Linked DNA regions of Homo sapiens. The protein of the gene in region 6 purifies or fractionates together with the protein of the main gene of each other region. This does not show direct contact. Each region holds a gene or a part of one and is shown on either strand. Other genes may lie near its edges.

What was found.
Region 1: the proteins of SERPINC1 (region 6) and TEX15 purify together in Homo sapiens (affinity purification with mass spectrometry, with the first as the bait; 3 studies listed by BioGRID). This does not show direct contact.
Region 2: the proteins of SERPINC1 (region 6) and BTD purify together in Homo sapiens (affinity purification with mass spectrometry; 3 studies listed by BioGRID and IntAct, with this or other methods). This does not show direct contact.
Region 3: the proteins of SERPINC1 (region 6) and CUL2 purify together in Homo sapiens (affinity purification with western blotting; one study listed by BioGRID). This does not show direct contact.
Region 4: the proteins of SERPINC1 (region 6) and RNF146 purify together in Homo sapiens (co-immunoprecipitation; one large-scale study listed by IntAct). This does not show direct contact.
Region 5: the proteins of SERPINC1 (region 6) and TUBB1 purify together in Homo sapiens (affinity purification with mass spectrometry; 3 studies listed by BioGRID and IntAct, with this or other methods). This does not show direct contact.
Region 7: the proteins of SERPINC1 (region 6) and SPSB4 purify together in Homo sapiens (co-immunoprecipitation; one large-scale study listed by IntAct). This does not show direct contact.

The regions. Positions count from the first base shown.
Region 1 is NC_000008.11:30,909,852-30,914,515, reverse strand, and holds the start of TEX15 (testis-expressed protein 15), read left to right. Parts: upstream 1-1,507; 5' UTR 1,508-1,637; intron 1,638-4,664.
Region 2 is NC_000003.12:15,650,122-15,654,280, forward strand, and holds the end of BTD (biotinidase isoform 1 precursor), read left to right. Parts: 3' UTR 1-3,593; downstream 3,594-4,159. UniProt on the Homo sapiens protein: Catalytic release of biotin from biocytin, the product of biotin-dependent carboxylases degradation.
Region 3 is NC_000010.11:35,010,209-35,014,367, reverse strand, and holds part of CUL2 (cullin-2), read left to right. Parts: intron 1-567; coding exon 568-669; intron 670-2,403; coding exon 2,404-2,520; intron 2,521-3,925; coding exon 3,926-4,057; 3' UTR 4,058-4,159.
Region 4 is NC_000006.12:127,280,156-127,284,314, forward strand, and holds part of RNF146 (E3 ubiquitin-protein ligase RNF146), read left to right. Parts: intron 1-75; 5' UTR 76-183; coding exon 184-185; intron 186-360; exon of another isoform or gene 361-4,159. UniProt on the Homo sapiens protein: E3 ubiquitin-protein ligase that specifically binds poly-ADP-ribosylated (PARsylated) proteins and mediates their ubiquitination and subsequent degradation. May regulate many important biological processes, such as cell survival and DNA damage response.
Region 5 is NC_000020.11:59,022,145-59,025,166, forward strand, and holds part of TUBB1 (tubulin beta-1 chain), read left to right. Parts: intron 1-700; coding exon 701-809; intron 810-1,345; coding exon 1,346-1,456; intron 1,457-1,560; coding exon 1,561-2,639; 3' UTR 2,640-3,022. UniProt on the Homo sapiens protein: Tubulin is the major constituent of microtubules, a cylinder consisting of laterally associated linear protofilaments composed of alpha- and beta-tubulin heterodimers.
Region 6 is NC_000001.11:173,914,528-173,919,454, reverse strand, and holds the start of SERPINC1 (antithrombin-III isoform 1 precursor), read left to right. Parts: upstream 1-2,127; 5' UTR 2,128-2,195; coding exon 2,196-2,236; intron 2,237-2,514; exon of another isoform or gene 2,515-2,950; coding exon of another isoform or gene 2,951-3,048; intron 3,049-4,268; exon of another isoform or gene 4,269-4,437; intron 4,438-4,535; coding exon 4,536-4,902; intron 4,903-4,927. UniProt on the Homo sapiens protein: Most important serine protease inhibitor in plasma that regulates the blood coagulation cascade. AT-III inhibits thrombin, matriptase-3/TMPRSS7, as well as factors IXa, Xa and XIa. Its inhibitory activity is greatly enhanced in the presence of heparin.
Region 7 is NC_000003.12:141,057,302-141,061,460, forward strand, and holds part of SPSB4 (SPRY domain-containing SOCS box protein 4), read left to right. Parts: intron 1-4,159. UniProt on the Homo sapiens protein: Substrate recognition component of a SCF-like ECS (Elongin BC-CUL2/5-SOCS-box protein) E3 ubiquitin-protein ligase complex which mediates the ubiquitination and subsequent proteasomal degradation of target proteins.

The DNA.
Region 1 (4,664 bases), on a different chromosome or scaffold from region 6:
AATTTGATGATAGTTAAAGAACGTCTTTCCACTAAATTGAACTTATAGTGAAAGAAACATTTTAGGCCGGGCGCAGTGGCTCACGCCTGTAATCCCAGCACTTTGGCAGGCCGAGGCGAGCGGATCACGAGGTCAGGAGATCGAGACTCATCCTGGCCAACATGGTAAAACCCCGTCTCTACTAAAAATACAAAAATTAGCTGGGCATGGCGGCGCCTGGCTGTAATCCTAGCTACTCAGGAGGCTGAGGCAGGAAAATCGCTTGAAGCTGGGAGGCGGAAGTTGCAGTGAGCCGAGATCGCGCCAATGCACTCCAGCCTGGCAACAGAGCTAGATTCCGTAAAAAAAAAAAAAAAAAAAAAATTAATTCTCAGATTTACGGTATTCACAGATCCCTGAAGCTCCTCTTTCAATCCAGTTGTAAAATACACTTAAAACTTGCCTTACAGAAAGTGATTATTGGAAAATGGAATAGTGCATCTTTGTGTGTGTGTGTGTGTGTGTGTGTGTGTGAGAGAGAGAGACAGACAGACAGACAGACAGACAGACAGAATCTCACTCCTTTGCCCAGGCTGGAGTGCAGTGGCGTGAGCTTGGCTCACTGCAACCTCCGCCTCCCGGATTCAAGCAATTCTCCCGCCTCAGCCTTTCAAGTAGCTGGGACTACAGGCGCACGCCACCACGCCTGGCTAATTTTTGCATTTTTTAGTAGAGACTGGGATTCGCCATGTTGGCCAGGCTGGTCTGGAACACCTCAGGTGATCCGCCCGTCTCGGCCTTTCAGAGTGCTGGGATTACAGGCATGAGCCACCGCGCCCGGCCGAATACTGCATCTTTTAAGCTGCCTGTCTTCAGCGTCTTCGCCCCTAAAGGATTCACCCACTGAAGGATGAAGTGACTCTCAGGCCTGCAATTGTAAAACTAAATCTGAGTGACTGGACTGGAAGACTTCGATTCTGTAATCTATATAGCCTCTGAATCAGGCTTTCATAAGCCGCGCTATGAAGTAGAATTAATTTTCTGAGTGCAAGGATTTTTTTTGTTTTTGGCAGAGGAGGTCTCACTATGTTGCCCAGGCTGGTCTCAAACTCCTGAACGCACCTTGGTCTCCCAAAGTGCTGAGATCACCGACCACCGCACCCGACAGAATGAGTCTGGTAAAAATCTTCATGCTTTAGATCCCTGAAACTTGGATGTACTTGTTAGCTCCAAGCTGAAGCCTTAGCTAAGGGATTTGGCCATTAGCTGAGCAACATAAAGTCCTCCCCGATCTTCTAACTCCTTTTGAATTAAATTAGAAAGCCATGACAAAACGATCGTTTTGTTGAAGGCCCACTCCGTGTACACGGAGTAGGCACTGAACACACAGTTTGCTTCAGGACATGGAAAGTCTCTCAGGAGTCCGTTCCTGCGCGGGCCCCACCTACGGGCTTCGAGCTTCCACGTGCAGGGCCTCTGGCTCCGCCCCCGGCGCAGTGCGCAAGCGCCGCTGCTTTCCGAGCTGCCTGCTCACTGTGCGCACCTCGCTGGGGGGTGCTGCTGTGTTCCTGAGGCTTCCAGGGAAGGCAGTGGGCGAAGGTCTGTACCGTGCTAAGATTGAGTCTGAGGAACTGACTGAGCAAAGAAGACAGCTCAAGGTTTGTGGGGAATGTGGCAGATGAGGAGAGGAGGGTTAGCAGCTAGTTTGGTGTGAGGTAAATTAAAATTAAGGAGTGAAGAATGTTAATTATGGGGAGTCTCAGACGCTACTCTTCTGGCTCGGAGCTTCCCGATTAAATTTATTTTTAAAAATAATAAATTTTTTAAAAATGTTAATTATCATTGATTCAGGGACTCTGGGGCCAAAGGTGGGCCTCCGAGGGCCAGGGCAGCCGACTCTACAGGTGAAATGTTTAGCTTTCCTCAGATGCGCGGGTTCCCGCGCTTTCGCTCTCCCTCTGCCCCCGCTGAGCCCCACGGAGCTGGCCCTGCGTCCTTGTTTGCAGCTGAGGAGAAACTCGCTGCTCTGAGGCAGCGAGAGGAGAGAGCGCCACAACTTGGTGGTGGCCTCCGCCTCGCCCTGGCTCCCTGGAGGCGCAGTTTGTAGTCAGCAGAAGGCAGCGCGGAGCAGCCGCGTTGCGCAGGGCGCGTGGGGATCTTCGTGGTGCGTGGGGATATCCGCGGGGGCGGGGAGGGGGCGGGAGCCCCGCCGCCCCGGGACCGCAACTCGGGACTCCTGTGGGACTCGCGACCCTGGAGCGCTAGGGCGGGGAACGCCGCCCGGGTGACTGGCAGTCCGCGCGCCTCATTCTCCCCTGCAGAGCCCGCGCTCGGACCATGCCCGCCTGCGCCGGCTGTCTCGCTGCAGGAGCCGGTGGACGCGGGGGAGCCTCGGTAGGTGAGGGCGGCGCGGGGGTAGCTGGGCTCCGACGCGGGCGCCTGAGGGGAGCGTCCCCCGACTGCAGGAGGACTGGCGCGCCCGGGATGCGGTGCCGCGTGTCCCGGCGCTGTGGCTGTTGTAAGGCTGAGTGGAGGTTTTGCAGGGCTGCTTCGCCCTGGTGGCTCTTGGCTTCCTGGCTCGGCTCAGTGAAGGGAGTGAAACCCCTCGGGTCCCGGCGTGGTGCGGGTGCAGGAAGAGACTCCTGCCTCAGTTTCGTGTGAGCCGCGTCCCAAGCCCAGCCCTGCACAGATCCTTTCAGGCAGTTTCCATCCTCTCCGCGCTCGGGGTTGAGTTTCCGCGTTTGGAATGCTCGGTTTGAGGCGCATGGCCACCGCGCTGGCTGTGTCGGGAGACAGTGCCCAGGGATGATGTTCGAGAAAGTGGAGAGGCTGAGGTCGCTGGCAACTCGGAGACTTTGAAGATACCACGGTTCCCTTCAAGTTTAAAAATGGTGAGCTCTAAGTGCAGTGTGAAGCACCCCAACGCCCTAAGTGCACTGATTGCTTTTGGGGGTGATGGGTGAATATGGGGCTGTTTCAAAGTATGAAGTAGAAGTGATACCATTATTCGCTTTTTTTATTTTTGAATTTCCTTTTTGACGACTATGTGTGTTGGTGGAGAAGGAAGAGAAGTGATACAAGCTTTGGCGAGCGCTGTGGCTCAACGCCTGTAGTCCTAGCATTTTGGGAGGCCAAGGCGGGCGGATCGCATGAGCCCAGGAGTTCGAAACCAGCCTGGGCAACATGGGGAAATCCCGTCTCTACAAAAAATAATAATAATAGTAGTAGTAATAATACAAAAAATACGAAAATTAGCTGATGTGTTGCCACGCGCCTGTAATCTCAACTATTCGGGAGGCTGAGGCAGGAGAATCGCTTGAGTCTGGGAGTTTGAGGCTGCAGTGAGCTGAGATTGCACCACTGCACTCCAGCCCGGGCGACAGAGCGAGACTCTGTCTCAAAAAAATAAAAATAAAGTGGTACAAGCTTTAATTAAAATGTCGTTGAGTTCACATTGAGAAAATGGTTAAATTTATTGAATATTTTTAAAAGATTTTAAGGTTCATCCAAAATATATCATCGCTGCTTGAAAGGGAGAGTTCGTTTTAACAGTTGAAGTTAAGGGAACTGGAGGAGTGAAATCAGTATTTAGAGATACGTTTAATGCTTTGTTATTGCCCACTTTCTTAAAGGCCTTTAATTAAAAAACAAAACATAGATCTTTCTTTACCTTATTGCAAAGATATTTTAAAATCTGAACCCTACCTAATCATAAAGATGTCAAAATTTGAGGGAGAGTGCTTAAGCATCAAAACCCATGTATGTTTTCTTTTTTAAATAAATTATTTGGATGAGTGCCAAATAATGCCATGTAATCCTAGGACTTTGGGAGGCCAAGGTGGGAGATTGCTTGAGGCCAGGAGTTCAAGACCAGCCTGGGGCAACATAGTCCCCGTCTCTACCAAAAAAAAAAAAAAAAAAAAAAAGGCCAGGCGTGGTGGTGCAAGCCTTTGGTCCCCAGCTATTTGGGATGCTAAAATGGGAAGATTGCTTGAGCCCGGGTGGTCAAGGCTGCAGGAAACCGTGATCACATCATTGCAGTCCTGGGCAACAGAGTCAGACTCTATGAATTCTGTAAAAGAATTCATGGAACTAGGCAAACATAAGAAATTACCCGTAGGAGTCTTATTGGCCAGTGGGAAGAAAGCATAAGAACTTCCACTGGCACTTTTTGAAATTTTAATCCTAGCAGCTAGTGATAATTTCCGCTTTAGTATATGGCTTTAGTATGTTAAAAAATGTTTTACAAAATCAGTGAAGTATAATTATATTGCTTTTACTCAATTTCAGGAGATCCGAAGGTCACTTTTTCTCCCAGCACACCTACTAGTGTACTTGAGCACTTTAAAGTTTTTTTTTTTTTATTGTACCGAAGGATGATATACTGTACTGGATTACAAAATTTCTTCAAGTTAGAGAAAACAATCATGATTTTCACAGTACCCAAAAATTTTGGAAAATTGGCAGTTTTAATTTTTGGTAAATGTACTGCTTTGGTCTGCTTTTGCTATGTTCCTATTTCTCATTTATTTCAAAATAGCTTGGCTTCATGAAGGATGATAGAGGGGATTTGAAGTGCCTACATGTTATCCTGTTAGGTCTAATGGAATCTCATTAAATCTCCAGCCCCTGAATGTGTTGCACAGTTGGGATTAGTTTTCCTCTGAATCTATTAAATGTGATAT
Region 2 (4,159 bases), on a different chromosome or scaffold from region 6:
TTGGCTTACAAAATCTGCTCTATGCTTGCTGACTGCTGAATGAATGAATGAATGAATAGGTAGTCACAAAGAATGTTTAGAATGTTTCTCAGACAGGCTGAGAAAAAACACAACGAAACATTATTTCCGTTTGGAAAGTTTTTTTATTTTTGTGTTCAGTACTGAAGTAAAACAAAAATCTGAATAACAGCTGCACCGTTAAAAATGAAATTACCAATATATGAACTCTAGGCATCATGCATATATAATTTTTTGTAGATAACTTTTCTTCTCATTTTCCTTCTCATTCTCTTCATCTTTTTCTTTTTGTTTGAGCAAAAAAAAAAAAGAATATATTAACTCGTAACTGGGGAGTCTAAGAATAAATTCTCTTCAGCCATTGCTGAATCTAGGGGCTCAAATGGTGTCTCTGGACACAGTATCACACTCTACTCTGCACTCTTCTTTATCATTTTCTCCCACAGACAGACTCTCGTGTAGTTGCAACAATGGCCATGACTTCTAGGCTTCATCTGCCCCTCTCAGCAGCTCTAGAGAAGAAGCTCCTCTTTTTACACAGTCCCTAATTAAAGTCTCAGAGATGAACAACCTGGGCTCTTGCTTAGGGCACGTGCCCATCCTGAATCAATGATCGGCCAGAGAGCTGTGATATTCTTTTGTTTTTTTGAGATGGAGTCTTGCTCTGTCGCCCGGGCAGGAGTGCAATGGCATGATCTCGGCTCACTGCAAGCTCTGCCTCCCGAGTTCAAGCGATTCTCCTGCCTCAGCCTTCCGAGTAGCTGGGACTACAGGCACGTGCCACCACGCCCAGCTAATTTTTTGTATTTTTATAGAGACAGGGTTTCACCATGTTAGCCAGGATGGCCTCGATCTCCTGACCTCATGATCTGCCTGCCTCAGCCTCCCAAAGTGCTGGGATTACAGGCGTGAGCCACCGTACCCGGCCAGGGCTGTGATATTCTGATCAGCCAGCACTGAGTCACATGGCCACTATTAGGGTGAGGGATGATAGGCTTAGCTCTGACCTGAAATTCATGGATTGAGGGGTGGGGACTGTTTCCCAGGGGAACACTGGGACAGCGTTACCAGGGGAAGGGGAGTGGGATATAGTTGGGCCAAAACAGTAAATGTCCACGAGGCTTTTTTCCTCTGAGCAGAAATTTCACTGTGATGCCAGTCAGGTATTGCTGCCGTAAGGGCCATAGCAGGAGGGAGACTGCAAATCTTGATTGAGGAGATCTTAAGAACAGAGTGATTTACACAGCTGTGGGCAGGATGTAGGGGAACCCAGAAAGGATAATGCACTACCCAGCGGCCAGCGACAGCAGGAGCTATGAGCACCCCAGGCCTGAAGGTGTGAAGGGCTGAAATGGTTACCAGAAGCAGGAGAGGGAAGCTTATGGAGAGAGCAGGCTGGCGGGAGCAGGGGCTGTGAGAGAGACAGCCAGACCGTAGCGGTGTGACAGGCAGAGAGCCAGGCGATCCATATCCTGTCTCCTCTCTCTTCTCCGCTCCTGACTCCTGCTGCGGCCTCCCACTGGCTGGACCCAACAGGAAAGCAGAGGATAAGAGAATCTGGTTGGTGCTATCTAGAAGTCAGTGTTGGGGAGGTCACAGAACAGAATGGAGAGGGGTAGAGTATGCAGGGAAGATAAATGCAGCCCTGGCATGGTTCTTCCAGAACATTCTGCAAGCTCATGGACCAGTTCATTTGAGAAGAAATAGAGGAGTTAGGGGAGAGAGAAGCTTCTTAATGAAAATAACCTTGGTAGCTAGTCTCAAGATTAGCCCCCAGTGCTCCCCACCTGCTGGTATCCGTTGTACAACACTTCCCACATTTTTCTGGGGTCGTTTTGTGTAACCAATAAAATATGGCAGATGCGATGGCATGTTACTTCTGAAATTGGGTTATAAAAGGTACTGCAGACCGGGCACGGTGGCTTACGCCTGTAATCCCAGCACTTTGGGAGGCCAAGCCTGGCGGATCACAAGGTTAGGAGTTCAAGACCAGTCTGGCCAATATGGTGAAACCCTGTCTCTATTGAAAATACAAAAATTAGCCGGCATGGTGGCACACGCCTGTAGTCCCAGCTAGTCGGGAGGCTGAGGCAGAAGAATCGCTTGAACCCGGGAGGCGGAGGTTACAATGAGCTGAGATAGCACCACTGCACTCCAGTCTGGGCAACAGAGCGACACTCCGTCTCCAAAAAAAAAAGATACTGCAGCTTCTATCTTGGTTGCTCACTTGCTATCTTGGGTCCCTCCCTCTGGGGAAAGCCAGTTGCCATCTCCCAAGGATCCCTATGGACAGACCCATTTGGCAAGGAACAGCCACCAGCTAGCTGCATGAGCGAGCCATGTTGGAAGTGGGTCCTCCAGCTGCAGTCAAGCTTCCAGATGACCACTGCCCTGGGAAACGACTGCAACCTCATGAGAGACCCTGAGCCGGAACCACCCCACAAAGTCACTCTTGATTTCCTAAGTCTCAGAAACTATAAAATATAAATGTGTGTTGTTTTAAAATCCTAGGTTTTGAGGTAATTTATTATACAGCAATAGAAAACTAATACAATAGTCTTGCTACCAGCACCTTAATCTCCCACATCCAAGTTAAAATTCATCCAACACTCAATCTCCCAGCTATCCTGACTGCTCCTATACAGGTATCTCTCCCACTATATATATATCAAGTGCTATTAGTGGCTATTATTTGTTGGGTTACACAAAGCCAGAAATCATCTACATCTACTCTCTTTTCTTCTGGTTTTGAATAGCAAAATGCAACAGGGAGATGTTCTCAGATAGAGGGAGAACAACAAAAAGAAGGGTCCATGCTGAACAAACTTGTTTGCTTTGAAATCGGAAGTTCTAGAGGAGGTATTCTGACAGTGGCCAGGAAAACCTCCTGCCCGCAGAATTTTGTCTAATCCACCCCAGACAGAGTTATCCAACAGCCTGGTATGGTGCAGACCAGGGGCTCTCGAAAGGTGGGCTCCAGGCAGCAGCACCAGTAGCACCTGGGAAATTGTTGGAAATGCAAATTCTTGGGCTCCACCCCAGATCAACTTAATCGGACTCTCTGGGAGTAGGGCCCATCAATCTGTGTTTAACAAGTCCTCCAGGTGATTCCGATCCTAATCAAGTGTGAGCCCACTGTCTAATGCGGTGCATACCAAAGCAGGTGCACGGGTCTTAATCATCACCTCAGTCCTCTGAAACAGGCAAGTGTGTCCATTTTACAGAAGAAGGAACTAAGGCCTGGAAGGCAAGTCCTTGCCTGAGACTAAACAGAATCCCAGCAACATAGGACGAGGCTGGAATTCCCACACCTGGACTAATGCACAGCCAGTGTTTCAACGTCGCCAACCCAGAAATGTTTTCTCTCCCTGTCATGCTAATTTTCAGCCCTTTCTGGGTGACTTGTTCATCATCCAAATATATTATTTTTGTTTTGTTTGACTAAAGGCAATTATATTTACATTTTCTCTAAGTACTGGAATGTAATGGTTGAAATTCCTATTCAGTGATCTGGAAGAACTCTAATGTTCTAAAGTGATTCTTTGATAATTAAAGAAAGATGTAATTATGTATAATGTGATTTGTAAGATAAGGTATAACTTTGGGGGTGTTCTAATTCTTTAAAAATTGTTGATCCGACTATGGATGTCTTGCAACTCTCAAAAAATCACGTGTGAAAGTTAAGCATTAGTTCCGTGTAAAATACTGTGCTAGAAATTGTGGAGGATGCAAAGTCACATAAGACTGTTACTGTTTTTTAAAATTTATTTTTTAAAATAGAGACAGGGTTTCTCCATATTGGCCAGGCTGAATCTCAAGTGATCTGCCTGCTTTGGCCTCCCAAAGTGTTGGGATTACAGGCGTGAGCCACTGCGCCCGGCCAAGACTGTTACCTTTAGCGAGAGCTTATTATCACCTAGTGTTCATATAAACATGGGATTTAAATACACACACAACCCCCAAAACAAATTGCTAAAAGATATTTGTGCAGATTTTATTTTTCCAAATGGCTACAACAGTATTTGAAGAACTAACAAGTTTAAAAATGTAAAAGGCCAGTAAGGCAACATTGGGCACTGGGGCAAGTGAAGGGGAGGGAAGGAGCATGGAGTCAGGGGAGAGGGCATTGGCTGGTTCTGCA
Region 3 (4,159 bases), on a different chromosome or scaffold from region 6:
CCTGAGCAAAGGCCACTTGCTTCTTGAAGAGTGAATAAAACATGGATTGAAATAAATGTTTTCACCATCACCCCAGGTCACAGCAAATTGATGCTGTGTGCTACTGGAGGCACAGCTTTCTCTTGTCATCAGGCCATTTACAGTGGGTATTTTGTTACTGCGGCATTTGTAAAAAAAAATGTGGTTGCTTTTTCAAAATGGGGTGATGGAAAAGTTACGCACTTTGGTGTTTCATAAAAATTAAAATGTCAAACTCTAGGCAATGAGCTTGACTCTTATTTTATCAAAAAGTAGTGTATATAGAATAGTAGGACCAGAAAATAGCTTATTCCCAAACATAAACTGCTTAAGATTCTGGCAGATGTAAAAGTAGAAAATAATTGGGTTTTTTCCTGTTTGTTTGAACAAAAGAATTATTTTTCTCTTAAATTTGGTAATCTATAATATAAAAGTTATGAGAGTGGAGGCTTTTTTGCTTGGTCATTAATTTAGCAGAATTGCTTGCAGCAAACTCTTATTTAAAGATTTTGGTTTTTATAAATATAAATGTTTTATTTTTAAATGTAGGAAGATATTGATGCAGAATCTTCGTTTTCATTAAATATGAACTTTAGCAGTAAAAGAACAAAATTTAAAATTACTACATCAATGCAGAAAGACACACCACAAGTAAGTGCTTTTAATGTCAAGTTTTTTTTGAGGGGGAAACATTTAAGCATTGGACTTTACAAGTGTTTACATTGAGATTGTGCAAAACTTTGCACAGCAAAATTAATAATGGGATATGTCTTTTCTGGTTTGTTGTTGGCATTTATTAACCTTACAGTCAAACAGAAATCTCTACTTGTATTTTAGTTTTTTCTAAGGAAAAGGGTATGGTTTTGTTGTATTTGCTCTTAAACCATTAGAATGTGTAACTATGCATTCTCTCCGAAAATTCCCACATTGAGAAGTAATAAAATTTCATATTTTTCATTTGTAAAATAAGGGAAAGTTCTCCAGTTCATTTTTTTTTTTTTTTTTGAGACGGAGTCTTGCTCTCTCGCCCAGGCTGGAGTGCAGTGGTGTGATCTCGGCTCACTGCAAGCTCTGCCTCCCGGGTTCACGCCATTCTCCTGCCTCAGCCTCCTGAGTAGCTGGGACTACAGGCGCCCACCACTATGCCTGGCTAATTTTGTTTTTTGTACTTTTAGTATAGACGGGGTTTCACTGTGTTAGCCAGGGTGGTCTCGATCTCCTGACATCGTGATCCGCCCGCCTCAGCCTGCCAAAGTGCTGGGATTACAGGTGTGAACCACCGCGCCTGGCCTACAGCTCATTTCTTTCAAAGAAAATTTGTCAGTAGAAAATGCTTCTTAAACTTTCATATGCAAATGAGCCACCTGGGCATCTTGTTCAAATGCAGATTGTGATCTAGTGGGTGTGGAGTGAGGTACTGACAGGCCAGTGTGAGGAGGGGACTTCTGCTCTTCATTATTTTAACTCAGCAGTGATTGTTGCTTTGGTCTGGGATAGACTGTTTCTATCACTTATGCTTCCTGATTGCCTCCGGTGTGCAGTCCTTGGGCTGATGCAGGATGTGAAGATAATATAAGATGTTAGACCCTCTCCAGAAACTTAATTCCCGATGGGGGGAGACAAATATTAACTGCCATTTACTTTGAAACCTAAAATGGTCAAGATTCCATTTTCCTCCAGGCTAATAAATAATAATTTGCAATATATAGATTGTATTTTGTCTTTGAAACGCTGTGAGGAGATCCTCTTAATGTGGCATGGTCTGCTTCTATGCCTTGCTTCTGTGTTTCTTGAGCTCCGTGGAGATAGGCCCCCTCTCCTGGCTTCTCTGCTTGAGCCACATAAAATGCCACTTCACAGCTCTTCCCTTTGAAGCCTGATCCAGTATGCATTTGGAGCTAATTACTGCAGTTGACACAACTCCATCTAAAAGCGTCATGAAAGATTCTGTAATCACTGATAAGAAAATGATCTTGCAAATTATTGCTGTGTCCTCCTTTATTGCCTCTTTACCTTAACAGTACAGTTTACAATAATGTAAATTTTTTTCTAATCTTTCAACTTTAACCCTAGAAATTGTAGATGTTTTAGCAGTGGTTATGTGATATTGGCACAACATAACTATATAATTTGCTCAATATTGTGGTGCATACCTGTAATCCCAGCTGCTCAGGAGTCTGAGGCATGAGAATCACATGAACCCAGGAGATGGAGGTTGCGGTGAGCTGAGAGCGAGTCACTGAACTCCAGCCAGGACGACAGAGTGAAACCCTGTCTCAAAAAAAAAAAAAAAAAAGTATTTGCACTCACTGATAAAATGAATTGAAAACAAGTTCAGTGACTTAATGTCTTGTTGGGTCTTTTTTCTTTTCTTCTGTAAAACAGGAAATGGAGCAGACTAGAAGTGCAGTTGATGAGGACCGGAAAATGTATCTCCAAGCTGCTATAGTTCGTATCATGAAAGCACGAAAAGTGCTTCGGCACAATGCCCTTATTCAAGAGGTAAAAGGAGGGCAGTCCTCAGGGCTTCTTAGGGTAGAGGGCATTGTCATTGTACAGATTCAGTCTCTTTCTTCTTAAAGAGGATACAGAAATAACCTGATCCTCAGATAGCATAAAGAAATGTTTCATACTTAATCAGAATCGTACTCACTCACAATTTCAGTATTAAATTCAGATTTGCAGGCTGGGCACAGTGGCTCATGCCTGTAATCCTTTTTGTTGTTGTTGTTGAGACAGAGTCTTGCTCTGTCGCCCAGGCTGGAGTACAGTGGCGTGATCTTGGCTCACTGCAACCTCTGCCTCCCAGGTTCAAGTGAGTCTCCTGCCTCAGCCTCCCGAGTAGTTGGGAATACAGGCGTGCACCACCATACTTGGCTAATTTTTGTATTTTTCGTAGAGACAGGGTTTCACCATGTTGGCCAGGCTGGTCTCGAACTCCTGACCTCAGGTGATCCACCTGCCTCGGCCTCCAAAAGTGCTGGGGTTACAGGTGTGAGCCACCATGCCCAGTGGACACCTGTAATCTGAATGTCTTGTTAGGCCAAGACAGGAGGATCACTTGAGTCCAGGAGTTTCAGACCAGCCTGGGCAACACAGGGAGACCCCATCTCACCTAAAAAAAAAAAAAAAAAAAAATTAAAAAATTAAAAAATTAGCCAGTTGTGGCGGCACACTTGTAGTACCAACTACTTGGGAGGCTGAGGCGGGAGGATTGCTTGAGCCCAGGGATTGAGCCTGTGTGACACAGTGAGATGCTATCTCAAATGATAATAATAAATTCATATTTGCTTTGGCTTTATTTTAGAGGTCTAAAACTTGCTGATTCATTGAGTCTTCTGTCCAGTTATTGAAGGAAATTGACCCATCAGATATTCATTCATTCCATAACTATCTGAGCCTACCATGTGATAGACAGCTGGGCTGGTCCCTGGGATATAGCACAGAGCAGCTGAAGATATGGCAGGCTTTTTTGGAGTTCACAGTTTAATGGGGGAAGAAATACACTATTGAAATGATATGCAAATAAATGTAAAATTACATTAGCATGCACTGAAGGAAACGTATACAGTACTATGAGAATGTATTTAAATATCCTGGCCTAGGGGCTGCTGGGGAAAACTTTCTTGAGAAAGTGTTTGAACTAAGAGCTGAGAGTTGAGTTAAATAGAAGCTTGGGGTTGTGTGTGAGTACTTAGGTTAATTAGTTTATTGTTTCACTTAATTATGTATCATTATTAGATTTTGCTGTATCCATTTTCCACATTGTAGTTCCTATTTTCATACTTAATTTGGCCCATTTGTTGAAACCTCAGTACATTTGAGGCACTTTAAACTGATTGGTTAAAAGTCATTACTTAATAGCTGAAGAACTGGCAGTAGTTTGACTTCCACATCTCTTCCACAGGTGATTAGCCAGTCAAGAGCTAGGTTTAATCCCAGTATCAGCATGATTAAGAAGTGTATTGAAGTTCTGATAGACAAACAATACATAGAACGCAGCCAGGCGTCGGCAGATGAATACAGCTACGTCGCGTGATGTCGCTCTCCTCCAGCGTGGTGTGAGAAGATCATTGCCATCACCATTTGGTGTGTTCCTGTGGGAAAAAGCAGGACTGTGCCTCCATAATTTGGTCATTTG
Region 4 (4,159 bases), on a different chromosome or scaffold from region 6:
CACTGAATTTTTTGAAAGGATTATACATAATTAACTGATTCTCTTGATCTTAATTACTCTTTTTTTCTTTTGCAGCACAAAGAATGAACCAGCAGTGGAAGAGAAAATACTGTAAGCTGGCTGACTGCTGGTGAAGAAAATGCTTTATTTTTGTGGCAGGCATCTGTGGGATCTGTAATAGAAATGTAAGTGTAGCATCATGGTTTTTTTCAGTGCTGCAGTAAATTAAATGGATTGGTTTAACGTGTGGTAAATTGAGTATCTGTCATATGTAGTTTTAATTATATTAAATGAGCATTTTCTTTTGACTTATAGGTGCTTTATTAACAATTTATTTACATTAAGTTATCGTTAATGTAGATTTCCAAGTCTCCTCAAAAGGAAAAGTCTCTATAAGAAAAACTGAAGACACAGGAGTTTGCTCAAAGAATGCTGAAATAGATCTCCAGGTCCTCTGGGTTCTACCTTCTTTTTACATAATAATTTTCTTAAATAACTAAGCTAGGCAAGTAGTACTAGCTTTTGTAAATAAGACAGACTACTAGGTTATAAAAACTCTAGTTACTAAAAACTTGTTTCACTAAATTAAAGGAATTTCTACATAATTGATTTTTTTAATGTAATAATACATCACTGCATTTTATTCATATCACTTCACTCTGATCCCCAGTTTTACTAGTTGTGCTTTCATCATTTATCTTTGCATGATATGCTTTAAAGTGTTACACACTACCTTGGATTTGTCCATATTTAACTTCACCGTATTGATGAAACATTTTTCACTATGAATATATTTCTGTTTTCTAAATTCATATAAGCCCTATGCAACTTGATGTCATTCATGAAAAATGTAGTGAATATTTTATTGACTTTTAATTACAGTGTTTTTCTTATTAGAGCAAGAGTGACCTTGGTAGATGCTATTTCACATTTTCCCAGTTTGACATAAAACTCTTGCTTTCTACTCTTCCAGTATGATACTGGTTACATGTAATGATATGTATTAACAATAATTAATTTATTATTAAAAGTATGACCATATTATTTTTATTCAGTATTGAAAATTTGATAATTGAAAAATGATACTAATAAGCATTTGTCTTTAAAAATATATATTTTATTTAATCCTGTCCATTTATCTATCTGTATACATTTTTTAAAATCTTAATAGGTCAGATAGTCTAGGTGCTGGTCATCAAGGAACTTACTGTGATCCAGTAAATGAGACATGTATGTAATTAACAAACAGTGGAATAGATGCCATATTAAGGTAACAATCAGATGCTATTGAAACTGAACAGAGGAAGAGATTAATTTCATCTGAAGGGTTCAGAATGAACAGAATAAGTTTCACCTTGCCTTCAAAGAATGAGTAGAATTTTAACAGTCAAAGAAAATTAGGAAATATTTTTCAAGCCAAGGGAATGAGGAGGGAAACAGCTGCCTAATCATCAACACATTTTAGAGGAGTCAGGGAACAGTAATATGTGGGAAGGCAGGGTAGGAGAAAGAGACTTCAAAATAAGTGCAGGGAGTGAACATTTATTTAGTACTTACTATATTACCAGATTTTACATTTATTTAACATACAATCAATCTTAATTGATTTTGATACTTAGGGACAGAGTATATTGATCAGTCTTGGAGGAGTTAGGGGACAGTACTTACTAGATGTTGAGGGGTTAGCTTTGTAAACAAGTAGCAGTACCCCATATTGAGCCAGGAGGAATAATGATAAGACAGTAAAGGTAAAGATAGATTTTCAGGATTTATTTTTGACTTACCTAATTTCTCAGTGATACAGGTGTTAGTATATCGATAAACTAGGAGGGAGAAGTTTTATGATAGTCTCTGGGGAATAGGGAAAGAAAGATGTCTTGGCCGAGTAAAAGTTTACTGGGATTGATGGTGTTTAGGAAATCAAAATAGCTATTAAGTGTGTGGGGTTCACAACTTTTGCACCACACAAAAGTGAATTGTATGGTGAAATTTTTGTCACTTAGAGTAACTTGCTTGATTATTCTTTTTTGCGAATGTCTCCCTTGTTGGCTTTTGTGGTGGTGGTCTATCTTTATTTCCTGTTCTTCTCTGACCATTCCTTACACCCCTTCCTGGCTATTTTACCTCACAGATATTGGAGTAATTCAAGATTCTGTGGTTGGCCCTTTTGACTGCTCTCTCTACAGGTTTAATTTGGGCATTTACTCATTTTCATGGCTCCAAGGACCATGTATGTGTTGGTGAGTCACCAGACTTTTTTCAGCTCAGATTTATTCTTGGAGTATCAAACTAGTAAATTCAGCTGTCATCTACCTATCTCCACCTGGAGACCTTAATAAAGTCATTATGTCTGAGACAGAACTCTCCTCAAATTCTGAATTTTGGTGAATGTGTCACCATCCATCAGTAATCAAATGCTTTCATTTCTTTTTCCTTAGCATTCTTCTATTCTATTGTTGGAAACTTACATCAGCAACCTCCCTCTAATTATCTTATACTTGCATTACTACCTGGATATTCTAGTTTCCCTTTCGCCATACCTCCTCCTGCATTACCAAACTTTCCTCCAACCTGCTGTTCAAATGGTCTGGAAGCTACTAAACTGGCTGTTATTTCCTGACGTAAAACCTTTCAGTGAACTCCTCTTGTCTCATTAGTGGTTCATATGTGGACCAGCTTCATAGAAATCCTTAAGCCCCTTGAAATTATATGTAGGATTGTTCCCTTTTTGTGTGTCTGTAATTGGATTCTAAATTCAGACTTTAAAAATCTGATTTTTAATATTTGGAGTTTTTATTGCAAGCTAAAAATTTCTTGAATACTACACATACTAAAGATCTTTTTTGCTTATAATAATTTTGCCTTTCATTTGACTAGTTGTCCAAGAAGTTTCAAGGAAATCTGAGTTCTTGGAGATTTCCACTAACTCTGCCCATACCCCTCTATATTTTGTCTTCTTGAGAAGAAGACTTAGTATTAATAGACTCTTATTAGTCTGGCAGAAATATTTCACATGGTTTATCTATTGGAAGAAGGGGATTTATACTTAAAAGTTGGAATATCACATGAAGAATTCAGTAAAAACGTCTTTGAAAGTAAATGATGTATTATACTTATTAATAGAATTGGACTAACGTCACTCCAAATTTCTGTGTATTAAATTCTTAGTTTAGTAAACTGGAAATAAATTCCCTTTTTCAAAATTAGAATTTTCTGAGACATTTATGAGATAGGGAATACCTCTTTTGATTAGCATTAATACTTGCTCTACACAAAGGGAGGGGAAAAGCTTTCTTATTTACATATTGGTATGATCATCTGCATACATTTAGTCTCCCACCTATTTTAAGATCATTGGAACTGCAAAACAGAGACTGTGTAGGGTAGATTAAAATGGTTTTTTAAAAAGCCTTGAAGTATGTCTTATAGGTAGACTAGCAGTTTGGGGTTACTTTGTGTCTATCTTGTTACACATTTTATCTCTATCTTACTTATTGCATGTGCCTCATTCAGAATTAAATAAGAAATATCACTAAGTTTTTCTGCCCATTTGTTAGTTGGTGATAGACTAACAGTATACTTGATGGGCTAAACAGAATCAGAATTTATAAATTGCTATGGCAAATTGATAGTTAAGAGTGCTTCAGATGAAATAATGACCATTTAGCTGTCTGGTGTCCATTGTTTGCAGATTAACTTTGTCCAACTTCACTTCATTCTGATGATGGAACCAAAATACCTGCACAAACAGGATTGTTTTGCCTTTCCAATTATGTTATTATAATTCATGCCTTCTCCTGGGATGATTGTAATTGCTTTCTTAGTTTTGAAATTATGTGTTTTGGTTTATTCATAAATGCAAGAGTAAGAGTCATGCAAAATATTAATCATATTAAGTAGGGTGGAGGATAATGTTTTTAGGTTGGAAACTTTTTTTTCTGTAGATAAACGAGCTGTATGTGATGGAAAACTGACTTCTTGGGCCCATTTTACTTAAAGCAAATACAATAGGTTTGGAATTATGTATTTAAAAGCATGGCATTGGTCCACGTGACATGTTGGGTGTCTTGTTTTCATTTTACCAGACTCTGTTTTTATTTATGTTTTCAGTTTATGATCCTGTCCTTTGTTCATAAGGTACTTAGATGGTTTAAGATGT
Region 5 (3,022 bases), on a different chromosome or scaffold from region 6:
GCCAACATGGTGAAACCCCGTGTCTACTAAAAATATAAAAATTAGTTGGGCGTGGTGGTGCGTGCCTGTAGTCCCAGCTACTCAGGAGGCTGAGGCAGGAGAATCGCTTGAACCCAGGAGGCGGAGGTTGCAGTGAGCCGAGATCACGCCACTGCACAGATAAGACTCCATCAAAAAAAAAAAAAAAAAAGGCGCTAATTACTTAAAATCATGCACAGAGGTCCAAGTTATGGGCTGTTTGGAAAAGTTCATGAAAAGAAATCCCCAAAGTGAAATGAGTTATTACTGTGAAATCAGATAAGAATTCAGTTTATTTTCCTTTAATGGAATCTACACTTTACTAGCTTGGAGCATTATAAGGAGAAATTAGAGCTATATTGACATTAAATTCTAAAACAACAGCTTTAATGTATATAATGGCATGAATTTAATAGGAGGAAAATCCAATTTAGTACTTTGTGTTTGACATTTTATTTAAGGAGTTCAGGTGGGGAGAAAATGCAATCTTCATATTACTTCACATTGCTTAGTAGAGGCAAAAAGCGAATGATGCCATGGTTATTTATGAAAAGGCCCTAAAAGAATGTCTTGGGGAGGGTCAGGCAACCAGAGGGAAACAGGCTTGGGAATGCTAACTTTCTCTGTGGTTAACACAGCCTTTTTCGGGGTCCGTTTACTCTGACCTTCCTCCTGCTTTCAGTTCTGGGAGATGATTGGTGAGGAACACGGGATCGACTTGGCTGGGAGCGACCGCGGGGCCTCGGCCTTGCAGCTGGAGAGAATCAGCGTGTACTACAACGAAGCCTACGGTAGGACTGGCGGGGCTCTGGGAGCAGTGGTCCCGCAACTGGGAACACAAGCAGAGGAAGGGCAGAGGCCCAGGAGATGGAAATGTCAAAGCAGTGATGTCTATGCTCAGGGAGGCGACAGGCAGGGCAGCAGGATCCTAGAGTGGTGGGTCCCCAAGCCCTGGTCAAGACGCAGGAATGGGGAAGGAGCTGCTGGATATGGCACACACCTTAACACAAGCAGGTTAAGTACTCACTTTCCTTTGTGGTTTCACAAATGAAACCAGGATCATTTCCAATATGAAGGAAGAGAATCTCTGTCACTGGCAATATCACAGAGCAGACTGATGGAGATTGTTTCTGGGTATTCTATAGATTTGTGGGATTGTTGTTGGGGTAAAAAATATGATGTTAGATACTCAAATCTCGACCTACCAAGGGCCCCTTTCTAGAATATCCATGATTTTTTTTGGACCAGTATCACAAAGTTCTATTTTGATAAAACATTAACTTTTAGAAAAACAAGTAGGCTGACTTTTTCCTATTTTTCTACACAGGTAGGAAATATGTGCCCCGAGCAGTCTTGGTGGACCTAGAACCTGGGACGATGGACAGCATTCGATCTAGCAAATTAGGAGCTCTCTTTCAACCCGACAGTTTTGTCCATGGTATGTTTTTCCAGAAGGTTCCACCAGGAGGAGGGGGGGATGCTTTACTGGTGCCCTTCTCTTTTCACCTTTCTTCCCCTGCTGGTTTCTCTTTTTGGCCACAGGTAACTCTGGGGCTGGCAACAACTGGGCCAAAGGCCACTACACGGAGGGAGCCGAGCTGATCGAGAATGTCCTAGAGGTGGTGAGGCACGAGAGTGAGAGCTGTGACTGCCTGCAGGGCTTCCAGATCGTCCACTCCCTGGGCGGGGGCACAGGCTCCGGGATGGGCACTCTGCTCATGAACAAGATTAGAGAGGAGTACCCGGACCGGATCATGAATTCCTTCAGCGTCATGCCTTCTCCCAAGGTGTCGGACACTGTGGTGGAGCCCTACAACGCGGTTCTGTCTATCCACCAGCTGATTGAGAATGCAGATGCCTGTTTCTGCATTGACAATGAGGCCCTCTATGACATCTGCTTCCGTACCCTGAAGCTGACGACACCCACCTATGGGGATCTCAACCACCTAGTGTCCTTGACCATGAGCGGCATAACCACCTCCCTCCGGTTCCCGGGTCAGCTCAACGCAGACCTGCGCAAGCTGGCGGTGAACATGGTCCCCTTCCCCCGCCTGCACTTCTTTATGCCCGGCTTTGCCCCACTCACGGCCCAGGGCAGCCAGCAGTACCGAGCCCTCTCCGTGGCCGAGCTCACCCAGCAGATGTTCGATGCCCGCAATACCATGGCTGCCTGTGACCTCCGCCGTGGCCGCTACCTCACAGTGGCCTGCATTTTCCGGGGCAAGATGTCCACCAAGGAAGTGGACCAGCAACTGCTCTCCGTGCAGACCAGGAACAGCAGCTGCTTTGTGGAGTGGATTCCCAACAACGTCAAGGTGGCTGTCTGCGACATCCCGCCCCGGGGGCTGAGCATGGCCGCCACCTTCATTGGCAACAACACGGCCATCCAAGAGATCTTTAATAGGGTCTCTGAGCATTTCTCAGCCATGTTCAAAAGGAAAGCTTTTGTGCACTGGTACACCAGCGAAGGGATGGACATAAACGAATTTGGGGAAGCTGAAAATAACATCCATGATTTGGTATCCGAGTACCAACAATTTCAAGATGCCAAAGCAGTTCTAGAGGAAGATGAAGAGGTCACGGAGGAGGCAGAAATGGAGCCAGAAGATAAGGGACATTAACTGTGAGAGAAGCTGTGCCGCGGAGTCGCTTACAGAACAGTTTCTCATTAGATGAGTGTTTCTCCTGCAGCACTCCAAAACCCACTCTGCACTGCAGCACAGTGAATGATATGCACTCACCATTAGCTTCGACACAGGGACTGAGGGAGACAGGTGGGGAGCAGCTGACAGGCATTAGGGTCTTTGCTGACATCTACTAACCTTGAAGAGTTTGATGTTCAGTGCATACTTATTAACTTAAAAAAATAGCAAATTTATTGTAAAGTGCTCCCTTTGTTTCAAAGTGTTTGCCAGGCATCCAGACTACACGTGTGGATTTGCAGGGAGCCACTGGAGTTGGTGTTACATTTTTATACTTTAGCAGCACTGATAGGCACCCTGGA
Region 6 (4,927 bases):
GCTGGGACTACAGGCTCATGCCACCATGCCCAGCTTATTATTATTATTTTCTGGAGATGGGGGTCTCACCGTGTGTGGGGTCTCACAGTTGGTCTTGAACTCCTGGCCTCAAGCCTTGGCCTTCCAAAGTGCTAGGATTACAGATGTGAGCCACTGCATCCAGCCTGGATGAACAAATTAAACACAAACCCTGATGTTATAGTTCTTAATTCCTTGACCTGGTAGTATCTGCATCCTAATCTTTTCCAGCGATGTTCACCAAATCACCTATATTTTTGCAGGGCCCCTCATCTGCCCTCCCCCAAGGACCTTCTTGGCAAGACACAAACCTCATAACTCCTATAAGCTGGAACAATAGGTCTCAACAGCATGTTCCTGAAACCTCAAGGTCTTTGTATTTCTGATTTCTCTTTGGACAGCTCTTCCTAAAGATATTCATATGGCCCCCTCCATCATTTCATTCTGGTTTCCTAACAATGATTCCTAAGGGAGGCCTTTCCTACCAAGTGTTCTCAGATGGTGCCCTCCCCACTTCCTCCCACTGCTTCCTATATCCTTGCCCTGCTATAGTTTTCTCTATGGACCTTATTAACATCTGACTGGCACGTTACATATTTATTTTTTAAATACTGATTTTTTTTTTTTGAGATGGAGTCTTGCTCTGTCACCCAGGCTGGAGTGCAATAGCACGATCTCGGCTCACTGCAACCTCTGCCTCCTGGGGTCAAGTGATTCTCCTGCCTCAGCCTCCTGAGTAGCTGGAATTACAGGTGCCCACCACCATGCCCAGCTATTTTTTGTATTTTTAGTAGAGATGGGGTTTCACCAGGTTGGCTAGGCCGGTCTCGAACTCCTGACCTCAGGTGATCCACCTGCCTCAGCCTACCAAAGTGCTGGGATTACAGGTGTGAGCCACCACGCTTGGCCTAAAATACTGATTCTTTATGTGATTGCTGTATGTCTCCCCCGAATGGAATCCCAGCCCCAAGAACAGTGTCTGCTGGCACAAGCAGCACTCGTGTATTTGTTGAACTCAAGTGGTTGAACAGGAGACTTTTCAATAGTCTTTAATCTAGGGTGACAGATGAGCCTCTGGGCATTCTGGGGCCCTTTGGGACAGTTCTCGGCTACTGTTCACACTGCACATGGAGGGCTTCAAAGGATCCAGGGTCTGAATCAGCCAAGAACTTAGACACAGCTTCAGTTCAGGAGAGATGTCCTCTCTCATGAACGAAGAGCTCTCGAAAATGCCTATGACTGCAACAACAACTACAAGGAGTCCTTGATCACACAGCAGGAGGCACATGCGCCCTGTGAACTTGGTGGCTGCAGTCCTTGTGATGGTGCTTTTGGCTATTTCAGAAGAGGGAAATGTAAACAAACCTGCCCTTTATCTCCACTAGTTTGAATTTACCCAATCTCCCCAATAACTAATAAAAATAACGATACACATAAATATAATTTAGTTTGTTTTTATTTCAGCAGTTGTACGTGGGTTTTTCACCTGCCCCGCATTCTGTCTCCTGATCCCCCAGTAGAGTTTTGCTAAGTATTTCCCAGCTGCTCACACCCCTTAGAAACGCGCTTGGCATGCACCCCGAGGCCCTGCTCTTCTCTCCCTGTCCCACCACTTCAGGGCTGCTGGGGAATGGGTCTCTCTGTGGGCCACAGGTGTAACCATTGTGTTTTCCTTGTCTGTGCCAGGGACACCTTGGCACTCAGATGCCTGAAGGTAGCAGCTTGTCCCTCTTTGCCTTCTCTAATTAGATATTTCTCTCTCTCTCTCCCTCTCTCCATAAAGAAAACTATGAGAGAGGGTGGGTATGAACCAAGTTTGTTTCCTTGGTTAGTTTCCTAACCAAGTTTGAGGGTATGAACATACTCTCCTTTTCCTTTTCTATAAAGCTGAGGAGAAGAGTGAGGGAGTGTGGGCAAGAGAGGTGGCTCAGGCTTTCCCTGGGCCTGATTGAACTTTAAAACTTCTCTACTAATTAAACAACACTGGGCTCTACACTTTGCTTAACCCTGGGAACTGGTCATCAGCCTTTGACCTCAGTTCCCCCTCCTGACCAGCTCTCTGCCCCACCCTGTCCTCTGGAACCTCTGCGAGATTTAGAGGAAAGAACCAGTTTTCAGGCGGATTGCCTCAGATCACACTATCTCCACTTGCCCAGCCCTGTGGAAGATTAGCGGCCATGTATTCCAATGTGATAGGAACTGTAACCTCTGGAAAAAGGTAAGAGGGGTGAGCTTTCCCCTTGCCTGCCCCTACTGGGTTTTGTGACCTCCAAAGGACTCACAGGAATGACCTCCAACACCTTTGAGAAGACCAGGCCCTCTCCCTGGTAGTTACAGTCAAAGACCTGTTTGGAAGACGTCATTTCAAGTGCTCTCCCTCCCACCCCACCTCTTGGGGTAAGGCCTTTCCTAAGCTACCCCTTGGGTCCCTAGCCTAAGAAACAAGGGGGATGTCATCCCTGGTGTAAAGATGCTGTGCAGGAAGTCAGCACTCACGGGATCCAGGGGACGCTCCAAGGGGAATCCCCAGGGCCTGCCATCCATCCGGGAAGAGAGCAAATGCTACCCATGAGGACCTCCTCACTCCCTTTTTGCTCTTTCTTCCACTCAGATCCACCCCACTCCACCCCCACCCAAATCCCAGTGACCTTTGACTAAAGGGCCAAAACTGCTTCCTTTTCTCACAATGAGAGTTGTCCCTCCCTCAATGCCACACACACTCCCTTCTTCATCTGAGTTGTCACAGGAGGCTAGAAACGGGGTGGTGGCACAACTGTCTTGGTTTTAATTTGTGCTTCATAGCCCTCCCAGGGTCCTCTCAGCCTCAAATTGCATTTCCAAATGTAGTTGAAGGACAGAGTGGGCAACCGAAGGCAGTGGAGATGGGAAGATGAATGGCAGGGTCCTCTCCTCTCTCTCTCTGCTTCTTCAGCCTGCCTTCCACATCTCCCTTGGTGCCGCTGCTTCTCTCCGGCTTTGCACCTCTGTTCTTGAAAGGGCTGCAGAACTGGACTCAGACCACGCAAGAAGGCAAGTCCCCCTCAGCTGCCCCAGCTTCCAGCCAGCCCCAGGCTTGCCCAACGGACCACGTCCGTGAATCTGCACTGGGTGCCTGTCTTTCTCTCCCAGGAGAAGATGGGAAGATCCAGTACCCACACACAGACCCCCTTGTGTACACGCAGGAACCATAAACCAGCTGGAGGCAGCCCCTGCCCCACCCTGTCTTATCTACAAAAAATATTACAAGAGACTTTATCTCTTGATTTGCTTCATCGAGTGTCCCAACTACCTCATTTTTTTAAAATGTGAAATTAGCTTCATTTACCTTCATTGAATCCATGTTGGCGACTATTAAAAATTCCAGGCAATAAAAAGGGATGAGAGCCTGAACTAAAGCAGTGGCAATAACTGGTGAAAGAGTAAAAAAACAGAACTGATTGACTCTGGGGTGAACTGATTGACTCTGGGGTTTGACTAAATGAGGAGGAGAGAGGGAGGAATCCAGGGTGATTCTCAGGTTTCTGTACGGGATTCACTGAGCCCACTCACAGGAGCAGGCCTGTGGGGGAGAATTAATTACCAGTTCAGTTTGGTCCTGTTTCCCTGAAGAACTTGTAGGAGTTCCTGGTGGAACTGTCCAGCAAATAGTCAGTCTGGAGCTCAGTGGAAGGGTTAGGGCTGGAGCTAGAGATGTAGGAATCTTCAGCACACAGATATTGCCATTGTTTTTGTTTGTTTGTTTGTTTGTTGTTGCTGTTTTGAGACACAGTCTCACTTTGTCACCCAGGTTGGAGTGCAGTGGCACAATCTCAGCTCACTGCAACCTTCGCCTCCTGGGTTCAAGTGATTCTTCTGCCTCAGCCTCCCTAGTAGCTTGGGACTACAGGTGTGCGCCACCACACCCAGCTAATTTTTGTATTTTTAGTAGAGACAGGGTTTCACCATGTTGTCCAGGCTGATCTCGAACACCCAACCTCAAGTGATCTGCATGCCTCAGCCTCCCAAAGTGCTGGGATTACAGGCGTGAGCCACCGCACCCGGCCAGATATTGCCTTTGCTCCATCCATTTCTTCTTACTTCTCTTGTGTTGCTGAAATCTCTCTGCTGCATCTATCAGAGTCCTTCCCCAAACAGTTTCTGTAGATGGCTCCCCCTACCACCCTGACTCTTCACTGGGCACTAAAGCCGATTTTTTAGGCATGCACATTCCATGTCACAAACAGGAAGCTTCTCATTCTTTTTTCTCCCAGCGTGGGGAATTGAGCACATAATACTCCAAATAACCATCAGATGATTCTAATTCCAACATGACCACGTCCAGGCAACTGAACTGTCCCCTGGCAAGAAGTCTAGGACTGAACCTGTCCCGGGCCCCTGTACTTGGTTCAAAGGATTTAGCCTTTCTCTTGGCCACACCAGGTGGGCTGGAATCCTCTGCTTTACTGGGGCAACCCTGTGGTGGGCAGTGGGGCTAGGGGTTGCAGCCTAGCTTAACTTGGCATTTTGTCTCCTTGCAGGAAGGTTTATCTTTTGTCCTTGCTGCTCATTGGCTTCTGGGACTGCGTGACCTGTCACGGGAGCCCTGTGGACATCTGCACAGCCAAGCCGCGGGACATTCCCATGAATCCCATGTGCATTTACCGCTCCCCGGAGAAGAAGGCAACTGAGGATGAGGGCTCAGAACAGAAGATCCCGGAGGCCACCAACCGGCGTGTCTGGGAACTGTCCAAGGCCAATTCCCGCTTTGCTACCACTTTCTATCAGCACCTGGCAGATTCCAAGAATGACAATGATAACATTTTCCTGTCACCCCTGAGTATCTCCACGGCTTTTGCTATGACCAAGCTGGGTGCCTGTAATGACACCCTCCAGCAACTGATGGAGGTACGACCAAAGGTCTTCTGCCCAG
Region 7 (4,159 bases), on a different chromosome or scaffold from region 6:
TATTTGCACAAGAAAAATCTTAAAAACATTCCAGTTAAACTAAGGTCAGGCACCTATCATTGGTACCTTTGCACAGAGTCAAAAATTGAAAAATAAAGACATGAAATAAATAGTCTGAGCTCACAGTGCTCTGCATTCCCAGTTCATTCTTAAGTGTTGGTTCTTTCTAAGGCAGTGTATTGCTTTTCTTCATTTGTTCGTGCTCGTGCATTCCATAGACGTTCACCCACCACTTTCTCTAAGCCAGGTCCATGGGGACTCTGATGAGGGACACCCGGCCCCTGCTCCCAAGTTGCCCCAGTCCGATGGGAGGGAGGCAGCCAAAGAGACATCATGTCCCCTTGTGATAAGAGCTGTGGTGGGCACAAGTACAAGGGCTCTGAGAGCACAGGGGGCTGGGGAGCTCCCCAGAGGCACTAATATCTAATATCCTGAAAGCCTCAGAGAACCTGTCGAGGATTTTGAGCAGGAGCGTGATTAGATCAACTGTGTACTTTTACAAGTGCAGTAGTATATATTTGAAAGTAATATGCAGTCTATAAAGGAATTCCAGTGGTATCTAACTGGATTTCTTTTTACAGTCTTTGTCATTATTCAGATCTCTCGTGGAGTCTGACCCCTTTGGTGTAGGCTGTCTCCCTAAGGGAAAGTGGTTGAGTCTTATGCTTTTCAGCAGCCTGAGATCCCCAGGGCAGGCATCATTACTGCTGGCTAGATGAAAGAAGGAGACTTGCCCCCACCTCTGGCTCCAGCAAGTCCAAAGCCAGAGGCCACACAGAGAGAAGGGCATTTCACGCAGTCACTACCAATCCCCACAGCAGTCATGTCTTCTTGCAGACCCCGTGCCTATTGAGCTCAGCTAGACAGGCCTCTGTGGCTGTGATTTTGGGTCCCAGGCCTCTGAAGACTGTGCATCATATTTTTCAAACTAATGAGGTTCCTTAAACAGTGTGGCATTGCCACTTCATGTCTCCTCATTTCCCTGTCGGGTAGGAACATCTGCTAGGGTCCTGGGAAAGGCAATTAGCAAATTAGAGTTTTTGTTTTCTTGCTCAGCCATGATTGAAGCCCCAGAGCAGATCCTTCTGGATAATGTCATTAAGCATCCCCATCCAAGCATGACGTAGGAAATTAAGTTTGGTTTTGGGGAAAAGTGACGGAGGCATCCTTTGGCGTTCTTCAGGATGCTGGCTGCTTACTGGGTTGAGAGATGATGGTATTCCTGTCAGGAAGATGGATCCTGTTGTATGTCCCATGTGCCTGGCCCAGTGCTGCATGCTGTAGTGGAGATGAGGAGAGGAGAAATGTGCTAAGTGCCCACTCCCTCTGGCTGGAGAGAGAAGGCAGGGATGAGCCCGACTTGGCCACTGCTGTGTCCCTTGCTCTCAGCTGCACAGTGCCTGGCACTGTGTTCACTAAGCATTTTTTGAACGAATAAATGAGGGTTGGAAGCAGGGAAGGATGCAAAGCAGTAGCTAATAAAGGAGTAGACTGGATACAGCCAAGAGTCAGCTGCTCAGGAGTGAGAGTCCAACTATGATAGTGGCATTACTGGGCTTCATGTCCCCATATCCTGACTTTAGCCCTGGCCCTTTCTCTGCTTCATCCTCTGAAAAACAGCAGAGCATGAGCCCTCCCTGAAGCCCAGCACAACCTCTCCACAGTCCATATGTGTGTTCTGCCCCATGTTCAAAGTACCAGGCTTGTGTCTTGCATGGAGGGAGTAGTGCAGTGGCTGGGGGCACAGAAGTGCTGGTGAAAGTTTCCTGCCATCAGAGGAATGCCCTCAAGGTAGAAAAAAGCAGATCAGTAAGGCCTGAAAGATGTCCCCCTGGCTGGCTCAAGGGTGGACAGAGGTACAGGGCAGGCCCCAGGAGGCCTACTGGATCAGGGCAGGCTTCCTAGAGGAGGTGGAGCTCACCCTCATGGACTAATTATCTCTCAAAGGCTCCACCTCCAAATACTATCACACTGGGGCTTTGTGTTAGGCCATTTTTGCATTGCTATAAAGAAATACCTAAGACTGAGTAATTTATAATGAAAAGAAGTTTAGTTGGCTCACGGTTCTGCAGGCTTTACAGGAAGCACGGTGCTGGCATCTGCTTGGCTTCTAGAGAGGCCTCAGGAAGCTTACAGTCATGGCAGAAGGTGAAGGAGGAGAAGGCATGTCACATGGTGAAAACAAGAGCAAGAGGCGGGGGTGGGGAGGTGTCACACACTTTTAAATGAGCAGATATCTCTCCAGAACTCAGTCACTATCCCTAAGACAGCACCAAGCCATGACAGACTCACCCCCATGACCCAGACAGCTCCCACCAGGCCTCACCTCCAGCACTGAGGATTACAACTCAACATGAGATTTGAGCAGGGACAAATATCCAACCTATATTAGGCTTCAACATGTGAATTTGGGGAGGACACAATCAGTTCATAGCCAGGCACATTCAAGTGGTGAAATGGCAATGTTGGAACACATCCACAATTTAAAAGAGCACTCACCACTTACTGGAAGCCCTGTGATGTGCCAGACTTTACAGGTGTCTGCTCTGATACTTGCAAAAGCAGGTGAGGTTAGCACATAGTTAGCAGCACTTCCAACCAGTCTCAGAGAGATTAAGTTCTGGCCTAGGGTCCAACAGACAGGTGGGGATTCACATCTAGGTCTCCTGTCCTTCATTAGATTGCCCAGCTGCTAGTTTCCCTTAACGGCTTATCATTCATGGACATGAGCACTCTGCTGTGCGCCCTGTACTGGGGGAGCAGCAAAGGGGCTGTCTATTTACTTGCCCACCTTGTCACACCACAGTGTGAGCACTCTTCAGGATCTCTGCCTGCCTCTAGTAGGGACAGAGACTTTGAGACTATGATTGCAAAGGAGAGCACTGGGCCCTCAATGACCCAGTATGGGCCAAGCCAAGTACTAGTAAGAGGTCTTCCCTGGGGCTGCTGTTTGGCTGTTGCTTTCAAACATGTTTAAGTGTCTTTTCAGCAACAGCAACTCCACAGTTGGCATGGTTGTGTGCAAGGATAAAGCAGTTTCCCTTAGAAATTTTCTGTGTGGGCCACACAGAGCTGGTTACAGTCATTGCTGTGGAGAGGGCATTATTCTAAACAACATGGAGGAAGAAGTAAGAGCACAGGCTTGTCATATGGTAACTCTGGGGTTGATCCCAGTCCTGCCACTTCCTGGCTGTGTGACCCCAGGTTATGCAAGTTATGCAACCTCTCTGAGCCCGGGCTGCTATTGCAAAGAGTGCTGCGTATGTATGCAGTATGTATGCATGTGCTGTGTACATAGGTAGTTTTGTGCATTTGAGAACATATCTGAATAAATGCTGGAAGTAGAATTGCTAGGTCAAAGGGTCTGTATATTTGCAATTCTGAAAGATGGTGTTAATTTGCCATTTGCCGAGGCTAAACCAGTTTATATCCACTTTAGCAATGTATGAGTCTGTCTTCTGTTCCACACATTCTCCAAGCATGCGTTATCCATTTTTTTGACCTTTAATAAGCTGATAGACAAAAATGGCATTTCAATGGAGTTCTAACTCATTTCTTTTTCAGTATACATTGAGTATCTTTTCAAAGGAACCATTTGTTTTTGTGTAAACTGTTGATATCTTTTCATATTTTGTACTTGTATTCATTTGTAGGAGTTTGACATATATTTGTTGGTAATTTGTGTTGCAAATTTTTTCTTATGTTAAAACAAGTCTAACTTCTTTTACAAGTGCTTTCAGCTACACCGTTTTGTTATTTCCCATTTTCATTTCTTGTTTTACATATTTCTGTCTTCTCCCCCATTAAATGATTATATGGTTTATGTTTTATGTGTTTTTAAAAATTTAGTTACTTATGCATTTAAAGTATATTTAGTGATATGTGAAAATGCAAATTACATAATTTTTAGGTGAAATAATCTAAATAAAGGCCCATTATACCAATTTTTAAAAAGAAAATTCATTATAATTTATAGACCAAAAAAAAAGAGAGAATAAAGCAAAATTCCTCCAAAAGCTGACAATGTTTATATCTGGTTAATGAGATAGGAGAAAGAGGTGAATTCTAGTTTTTGTCCTTTTTTTGTATTCTCTAAAATTTAGACATTTATTTAACCTTTTCTAATTAATGAGCTTTATTTCTTCAGAATAGTTTTAGA